2 linked regions of the Homo sapiens genome follow. The protein of the gene in region 1 purifies or fractionates together with the protein of each later gene. This does not show direct contact. Each region holds a gene or a part of one and is shown in the gene's direction. Other genes may lie near its edges.

Region 1 (4,539 bases):
GTACAAAGAATACTGTCCATAACCACTGCTTAGCATTACTAAAATAGGTCAAGAGAAGTGTGAAAATGTGGGAAAGATTTTGCCCTGGTAAAACTTGGTCACAGCAAGAATGCTGAGTAGCACGGTTAAAGCCGTGAGGCGGACAAAGGCTTGTCCAGTGCCTGGCTCTGATGTTTTGGGCATTAAGTTCCCCCAAGAGGGTGCAGAAATCCTGTGTCCATTCTGGGGTGTGAGTTCCTTCTGGATCATTCAGCCAGAGGAGAATCTTTATTGGCTTTAAATAAATTCAGATCTATTAACAATCCATTAACAAATTTGTATCCATTAACAAATTGGATAAAATGATCAAAAAAGAGAGGCAGATAGTAACCTTGACAATCTCTTCCTGGATCCAGCGTTCATCTTCTGAGGAGTGGTGGAGGTGGCTGAGACCAACCACGCACCACCACCCCTTCTCCCACTTCGATTACAGAGGCTTTGAGGTAAAGCTCGCACAAGGGCTCAAGGCAAGGCCTGGTCTTCTGCCACCCCAGTGCCCAGCTCCTCACTCTGGGCTTGGCCCAAACTCCGTGGATGTTCTGTAAACACCTGCTGGAAGAAGAGGAGTGCGGGAGGAAGCGGGGAAAGGGATGTGTGGGGTGGGGGGATCACGGTTCTGTGAGGGAGGCTGCTAAGCAGAAAAGCAACAAAACCGGCCACAAGAGAACGGTGCTGCTGTGAACAGAGGGCTGTGAGGGAGGGCGGGGGGCGTGACCTTGGCGCTCATCTTGTAAACTCGGAGACATTCCTTGGGAAAAGATATTTCCCTAAACTACATCGATCTTGGGGCCGGACCCTTTCATCGTCCCACAACAATCACCACCGGGTCTACGTCCTTTAAAAACACCTGAGCGGCGGACCCGGTGGCTCATGCCTGTAATCCCGGCACTTTGGGAAGCCGAGGCGGGCGGATTGCTTGAAACCAGGAGTTCAAGACCACCTTGGGCAACATAGGGAGACCCCGTCTCTACAAATAGTAATAGTAATAATAATAATAATAATAATAATAATAATAATAATAATAAATTAAATTAGCCAGCGTGGTGTCGTGTGCCTACAGTCAGTCCCAGCTACTCGGGAGGCTGAGGCGGGAGGATCTCCTGAGCCCACGAGTTCCAGGCTGCAGTGAGCTGTGGTCGCGCCATTGCACTCCAGCCTAGGCGACAGAGCCAGCCCCCTTGTCTGTATAAAAACAGAGAAAGAAAAGAGAAGAAAGAAGGAAAGGAAGGAAGAAAAAGAAAGGGAAAGACCACTGGAAGTGGAGGCCAGGCGTGCCTGAAGCCTTGGCAATCAACAGCCAGCGCACACTCGCAGCCTCGGTCTCTGGGCGGGCCTCTCCACCCCTTTCCTCCACGGGGCCTATGGGGCTGCGGGGAGGAAGGGGCGCACCCATCGTCGACCCCTACAGGGCGCGCAGTGGGTGATTGCGGCACTGGCTCGCGTTCCCGCCCGAGGGAGACGAGGCGGGACAGCGGGCGGGAAAGGGAGCCTGCGCCGCAATCTTTCCCGCCCGAAAGACCCGCCCCGCGGTGGGCCCCAGTCCCCGCCCGGTCCGCGGCGCTGCCGGCCCCTCCTCGCCGCCGCGGAGCTGGACCGCAGTTGTGCCCCGCCGACCATGCGCCGCCTCCCGCGGGCCCTGCTGCTGCAGCTGCGCCTCGCCCTGCTGGTGGCCGCGGGGGCCCCGGAGGTGCTGGTCAGCGCGCCGCGGAGCCTGGTGTGGGGGCCCGGGCTGCAGGCGGCCGTCGTCCTGCCGGTCCGCTATTTCTACCTGCAGGCGGTCAACTCGGAGGGCCAGAACCTCACTCGCTCTCCCGCAGGTAGTGTCCAGCCGCCGGCCTCCCTCGTCCCGCGGCCGGGTCCCCGCGCGTCCCCGCCGCCCGGGAGTCCGCCCGCGGCCTGCGTGGCGTCCCTCCCCGGCGTGTGTCGCCCCTTTTTGGGTCTGGTCAGCTCCTCTTCCCTCCTCCCGCCCATACTCAAAGCGGGCAAAAATCACCACGAAAGTTTGTGGAATGAATGAATGAATGAACTTGAAGGGCCCTTCCGCATTTAATGTGCAGGGACTGATGTTGCGAATGGACGGCGCCCGGGCGTTACAAGGAGTGTGCCGTGAGTCACACGTTGCCTTCCATCTCGGACTTAGTTGTCTGAACTGTGAGGGATTGCAGGGAGCGCTTTCCAGTGGTGAGTCATCAAGCCGACGGATCGCGTCGGATTACATGGCTTAGGCCTGGTGGGTTTGGAGCAACGAAATCCTACGCAGAGGAAATGTCAGAGCCGTAGGAAGGAGGAGGGGTTTACGTGTTAGTTTTTTGTTTCCTTTTTAGTTCTGAGTTTTTGAAAGCAGATTACAGGAACTAGGGAAACTCAGTAGAAATCATTCGGTTTTCCCTCCACGGAGGGTGAGATGGATCTCGTCCTGAATCCCTTTCTGCCCGGTCCTCCTCCCACGTTGTCCTTCACGTCTTAACCTTTGCAACTTCTTAAAACTTGTCCTGCTGGTTTCACGCTGTTGTCAGTCAGGATTTGCTAATGTATAATTTGGGGCTCTGGCCAACTAGCACCTTGTTGTATCAGCGAAGAGACAATTAGAATAAACCAGTGCCTCTGCCCCTGCTAGTCCAGCTGGGAACATAGCTGCCAGAAGTGTGTCCCAACTTGGGAAAGGGGTAAGGGGGTCTTGACAGCTGGGCAAAGCAGAGAATTTAGGAACCAAACATAATTCACTTTTAGATTTAATGATTTTTAAAATTTCATTCATTCAAGAAATACTTCTTTGATGTCTACTTCTGTGTTTGGTAATTCTGCTGGGAATCTAAGGATGAAAAGACAATGCCTGACCATCAAGGAACTTACAGTCTGTTGGTCAAAGACATGCAAATAACTGATCACTGTACAAGATAATTGAAGGTATGTACAGAGTGCAGTGGCAACATTGAAGCACTGCCAGAGACTGGAGAAATCCAGGAAGATTTCAGGAGCAGAGACTTGAAGGATGAGAAGGTTTGCTGGGCAGGCATATAGAAGGACGCCATGGCATGTGCAGAAGCACAGAGGCGTAGGAGACCGTGGTGTTCGGGAAAATAAGTACTGTAATTTAATGATACTGAGCGGAAAAGCCTGGTTGATTGTAGCCTCTGGTCTTCAAGCGCCTTGAATGCCAAGCAAATGACTTTATAACTAGATAAAAGAGAGCCACTGGAGAAATTTGAGCTGAGGCAAGAATCTGCCTCTCCCTTAACTACCTCAGTGGCTTGTTTTCTACATTTGATTCAGAACACCACTCCTGAAGTTGTCTTTGGGCATTGCTTTGATAACGTGTCTACCAGTTAGACCCTAAATACTCAGACAACTGGTTTCATATGCATGATATGCATTTAGGTAAAATAATTCCGACTCTATTGACAGAAACGCATGTGTGTATATCAGGGTTTCACAAACTTTTTCTTTAAAGGGCCAGATAGTAAATAATTTAGGCTTTGTAGGTGATATCATCTCTCACATTTATTCAGCTGTGCTTTGTAGCCATGGACATATAACAAACCCGTTTATGTTACAATAAAACTTTTTATGGCCACTGAAATTTCAATTTCATATAGTTTTCCATAAGTCACAGAATATTATTATTTTGATTTTTCTCCAACCCCCCTCCTCCTTTTTTTTTTTTAAGAGACAAGGTCTTTGTCACCCAGGATGCAGTGCAGTGGTACAGTCATAGCTACTGCAGCCTCAAATTCCTGGCCTCAAGGGATCCTCTTGCCTCAGTCTCCCCAAATGCTGGGATTACAGGCATAATCCACCATGCCCATCCCCATTTTAAAAATATAAGAATCATTGTTAGCTTACAGGATTTACAAAAACAGGCACTGAGCTGGATTAGCTAGTTTGTCAATCTCTAATGTATGTTAAAGACTCTCAGTTAAAATCCAAATGATACATGACTTAAAGTTGTGTATATGTTTTATATGTACATATATTATATATACATAAATATATTTAAACAAACGAAAAAGTTTACAGACAGTTTCTATTAAATATCTTAACAGAAGGAAAGTTACATTTATGATTCTGCATGGTTTACCCCTGTGATCTGTGACTTTTCTTTTTTTACCTTTTTTAGTCTTAGAAAGACTTCTCAGCCTGGGCAACATAGCAAGATTCCATCTCTACTTAAAATAAAAATTTTAAAAATTACCTACTTGGGAGGCTGAGGCAGAAGGATCAGTTGAGCCCAGGAGCTCAAGGTTGCAGTGCATTATGATTGTGCCACTGCACTCCAGCCCGGGCAACATAGCAAGACCCTTTCTCTAAATAAATAAATAAAATGGAACTTTTTGGACAACCTTACTTTCATTCCTTTGGATTCCCTTTGTTTCCTTTCAGGCCTCTTGATTTCTGGCTTCCAGTTAAAAAGGTGCCGTATAGTTCTGAAAACTCACCCAACTAGTTTCTTACATTTCTGCCACCAACATTCACTTCCAAGTCCTGAAGTCTTTCCCTCTT
Region 2 (4,423 bases), on another chromosome or scaffold:
TTCAGTGAGAGAGTCAAATGGCTCACTCAGGATGCCTAGAGCCCCCCAGCAGCAGGGGTGTGCTAGGCCTGGCCCGGAGTGTTCTCTGTGGGCTAAGCATGAAAGGGGAAGAGCTGGAACAGTGGCTGTGAGCGGCTGCCAGCTGAACTTCTCCGCGGCCTCCCTTCCTGTCTGAGGTGTGTTTTTGCCAAGCCCACTGTCTGTTTCAGGGCAGCCAGGGTAGCCTCAAAGAGGAGCCAGAGCACAGAGAGTTTTCCTACACAGCTTCTTTTCCTCCAGTGGTGCTCGCCTCTCGCTTTAGCAGAGTTCTTCTTCTTGCTTGGCGTAAACACTTCATTTCCCAAGCAGCCTATCCCTTTGGGGCGGTCCCTTTGCCCCTCAAAGGTTGCCCCAGAGTGCACCTGAATCTCAAATGCCCAGCCATGCCTCCTTTCCTGCTCCAACACTGGGGCTGTGCCAGCTGGCTCCTGATTTCCCCTGCACCCTTCTGCTCCCGCCCCTGGGGGATCGCTGCCCCCGTGCACAAGCAGCTGCTTCCCCTGGGGCTGACCGCTGTCCTGGCGTGAATCTGCCCTGCCCTCCCGCCAGAGCAACCATGTACCCAGGGATTGAGTAGGGATGTGAGCCTCCTCCCGTGTGTGCTACAGCTGCACTGCCACTGTCACTAAGATGCCCACCTGGAAGGGAAACAGGGGCAGGCATCACTCACCCCATTTCACGGACACAGACACTGAGGCACACAGAGGCTCAGCTTTCCTTGGCACGGTGGCCGTGGCTCTTTTCTCTACCAGGCTTTCAGACTCTGTCTCTCCTGTTCACATGGTGTTGCCATGCCACCCTGTTTGGCTTATTTGCTGCTTAATGGGAAGTAAGAGGAGACTCCCTTCTCCTCTGCACGGTTTATAATTCTTCAGCTGGCTCTGCAGTCCACAAACCTCTTTCTTTGCAGCAGCTGCCTGCCCACTCTGTTTCCTCAGCCCTCCCAGCCTGGGACTCAGCTCTTCTTTCATGCCCAGCTCAGGTCTCTCACTGGCTTTGGGTCGACTCTAGCCTTTGTCTCCCTTCTCTGGATGGGGATAAGCAGAGCCAGGGGGCCTCATTCCAGGCAGTTGGGTTGGGGGGTTGGGGGCAGGCAAAGCTCTCTCCATTTCCAAGGACCACCTATCCTGAAGCAAGAGGATAGGAAGCCCCAACCTGAGGCCATCCTGTCCCAGGCCCGGATCATGAACATGGAGGCAGGGACGCTGGCAAAGCTGAACACGCCCGGGGAGCTGTGCATCCGAGGGTACTGCGTCATGCTGGGCTACTGGGGTGAGCCTCAGAAGACAGAGGAAGCAGTGGATCAGGACAAGTGGTATTGGACAGGGTGAGAAGGCAGGGCGGGGTGGAGGCTCTGGCCGCTGAGGGGAGGCTGGAGGTCTTGAGGCTGAGCCGGGAACATTAACCTGGCACCGTGAGGATGTGGGTATCAAGATGACCCCTCACATGCTGGAGTCTTAATTTCCAAAATGTATACGGTGGGGATGATCATACATAGCACAGAAGAAAGCAACTGGGTCATCACCCTACACCAGCAGCTGCAAAATCTGAGTCCAGATTCAGTCACTCATTTGTTAGCTCAGCAAATTCTTACTAGAATTCCTTATGTGCTAGCACCGTTCTCGCCGCTAGAGGTCCAGAGGAAAGTAAGATGAGAAGGATCCTGCTTTTTGGAGGAAGACAGATGATGCCCAACATCGATAAATAACACCAAGAAAATAGGCCAGGCGCGGTGACTCACACCTGTAATCTCAGCAGTTTGGGAGGCCGAGGCGGGTGGATCACCTGAAGTCAGAAGTTTGAGACCAGCCTGGCCAACACAGTGAAACCCCACCTCTACTAAAAATACAAAAATTAGCCGGACGTGGTGGCGGCACGTGCCTGTAGTCCCAGCTACTCGGAGGCTGAGGCAGGAGAATCGCTGTAACCCAGGAGATGGAGGTTGCAGTGAACCGAGATCGCGCCACTGCACTCAAGACTGGGCGACAGAGCAGGACTCCATCTCAAAAACAAACAAGCAAATGAACAAACAAAAAACACTAAGAAAATGAAATAGGGTTATAGGAGAGAAAGTGGCTGTGGTGGGGAGGGGAGCTTCCCTTAGATTGAGTGGACAGAGAAGATGTCTGGAGACATTTGAGCTGAGACCTGGAAAGAAGCCAGTCGTGAAAAGCTATGTATAGATGTGTTGAGAGAGACAGAATATGTTATAGGTATTGTTTTGTTTTTGTCTACCTCCCCTCCCCTTACTGGACTATTAATTCCAGAGACTGTGTCTTGTTCCTGCTATGTCTCCCAGAGTCTAGAGCAGTGGAAGACACATAGTAGCTGGTCAATAAATGTTTCACGACTGAGCAAGCAAGTGAGTGAACAAGGCAGAGATGACAGGTTGCCCCTGGGCTTTCCTTACAGAGATGTCGCCACAATGAATGAGCAGGGCTTCTGCAAGATCGTGGGCCGCTCTAAGGATATGATCATCCGGGGTGGTGAGAACATCTACCCCGCAGAGCTCGAGGACTTCTTTCACACACACCCGAAGGTGCAGGAAGTGCAGGTGAGGCACTTGGCTCAGGTGAGCCCCCAGAAACAAGAAACACACATGAACACGGTGATGTCTGATATTTTTCTTTGGCCCTGGAAGGTGGTGGGAGTGAAGGACGATCGGATGGGGGAAGAGATTTGTGCCTGCATTCGGCTGAAGGACGGGGAGGAGACCACGGTGGAGGAGATAAAAGCTTTCTGCAAAGGGAAGGTGGGAGCCTCCGCTCAACCTAGCTGATGCTGCTCTGTTCTTTGCTCACCCACTCCTCTGCCAACCAGCCCAGGGTGGGGATTGCTCTGCCCTTGACGAAGCTGACTCCTGGCCAGGCCAGCCCCTGGTCCCCTACCCATACCCCTGTGAGCTTGCGCAGCCTCACGCCTTACCTCCCTCCCTCTGGTCTGCAGATCTCTCACTTCAAGATTCCGAAGTACATCGTGTTTGTCACAAACTACCCCCTCACCATTTCAGGAAAGGTGTGTAAGGTGGAGGAGGCTGGGGAGGGCAGCCTGGGCTCTGGGGCCCCATAGGGCCCCACCTCTGTTTCCTTCAGCAATGGGTGTGGAGAGACTGGCAGTAGGGTGACCGGGTCACCTAATCCTGGTTTGCCTGGGGACTTTCCCTGTTTTGGCACTAAGAGCCTGAGAAACCCCTTATTCTTGGGTGAACCAAGACAGCTGGTAACCCTAACTCCATTTTCTTTCCTCTAGATCCAGAAATTCAAACTTCGAGAGCAGATGGAACGACATCTAAATCTGTGAATAAAGCAGCAGGCCTGTCCTGGCCGGTTGGCTTGACTCTCTCCTGTCAGAATGCAACCTGGCTTTATGCACCTAGATGTCCCCAGCACCCAGTTCTGAGCCAGGCACATCAAATGTCAAGGAATTGACTGAACGAACTAAGAGCTCCTGGATGGGTCCGGGAACTCGCCTGGGCACAAGGTGCCAAAAGGCAGGCAGCCTGCCCAGGCCCTCCCTCCTGTCCATCCCCCACATTCCCCTGTCTGTCCTTGTGATTTGGCATAAAGAGCTTCTGTTTTCTTTGGCTTCTTGCTGGTGGGCTCTCTTGGCAGCTACTACAGGATGGAGAAGGGAAGACACTGAGGGGAACTAGCACTTTCAGACGTCCTATTCCTTGTCATTGAGAGTGCAGAGCACCTTGATGTGGATTATCTACTTAATTTAACCCTCACCCTTGGTATCCCTTTGAGATACCAACCCATTTTTGTTGTTGTTCTTGTTTTTTGAGACAGAGTCTTGCCCTGTCACCCAGGCTGGAGTGTAGTCATGCGATCTCAGCTCACTGCAACCTCTGCCTCCCTAATTCAAGTGATTCTCCTTCCTCACCCTCCCAAGTAACTGGGATTGCAGATACCCACCACCACACCCAACTAACTTTTGTATTTTTAGTAGAGGCGAGGTTTTACCATGTTGGCCAGGCTGGTCCTCAAACTCCTGACCTCAAGCAATCCGCCTGCCTCAGCCTACCAAAGTGCTGGGATTACAGGCATGAACCACTGCGCCTGGCCCCAATTTTTTATTTTTAAGCTACTCTAATTTAATTCTTTTTCACATTGTTGCCAGATTAGTCTAGCAAGAAGTATTCTTTTTATATATGTATAACAGCTTGATTGAGATGTAATTCACATACTCTCCAGTTCACTCCCACCTCCCCCATTTTCTAGAGACAGGATCTCATTCCGTCACCCGTGCTGGAGTGCAGTGACTCACTGTAGCGACATGATCATAGCTCACTGCAGCCTCGAACTCCTGGGCTCAAGCAGTCCTCCCACCTCAGCCTCCTGAGTAGCTGGGACTGTAGGAATGTGCCACCATGTCTTAACTA

Evidence for each region.
Region 2: the proteins of POGLUT3 (region 1) and ACSF2 fractionate together in Homo sapiens (co-fractionation; one large-scale study listed by BioGRID). This does not show direct contact.

Annotation. Positions count from the first base shown.
Region 1 is NC_000011.10:108,495,482-108,500,020, reverse strand, and holds the start of POGLUT3 (protein O-glucosyltransferase 3 isoform 1 precursor), read left to right. Parts: upstream 1-1,636; 5' UTR 1,637-1,654; coding exon 1,655-1,856; exon of another isoform or gene 1,857-2,060; coding exon of another isoform or gene 2,061-2,220; intron 2,221-2,802; exon of another isoform or gene 2,803-4,539. UniProt on the Homo sapiens protein: Protein glucosyltransferase that catalyzes the transfer of glucose from UDP-glucose to a serine residue within the consensus sequence peptide C-X-N-T-X-G-S-F-X-C. Can also catalyze the transfer of xylose from UDP-xylose but less efficiently.
Region 2 is NC_000017.11:50,471,214-50,475,636, forward strand, and holds the end of ACSF2 (medium-chain acyl-CoA ligase ACSF2, mitochondrial isoform 2 precursor), read left to right. Parts: intron 1-1,155; coding exon of another isoform or gene 1,156-1,170; exon of another isoform or gene 1,171-1,185; intron 1,186-1,214; coding exon 1,215-1,366; intron 1,367-2,451; coding exon 2,452-2,593; intron 2,594-2,680; coding exon 2,681-2,791; intron 2,792-2,985; coding exon 2,986-3,054; intron 3,055-3,288; coding exon 3,289-3,339; 3' UTR 3,340-3,624; downstream 3,625-4,423. UniProt on the Homo sapiens protein: Acyl-CoA synthases catalyze the initial reaction in fatty acid metabolism, by forming a thioester with CoA. Has some preference toward medium-chain substrates. Plays a role in adipocyte differentiation.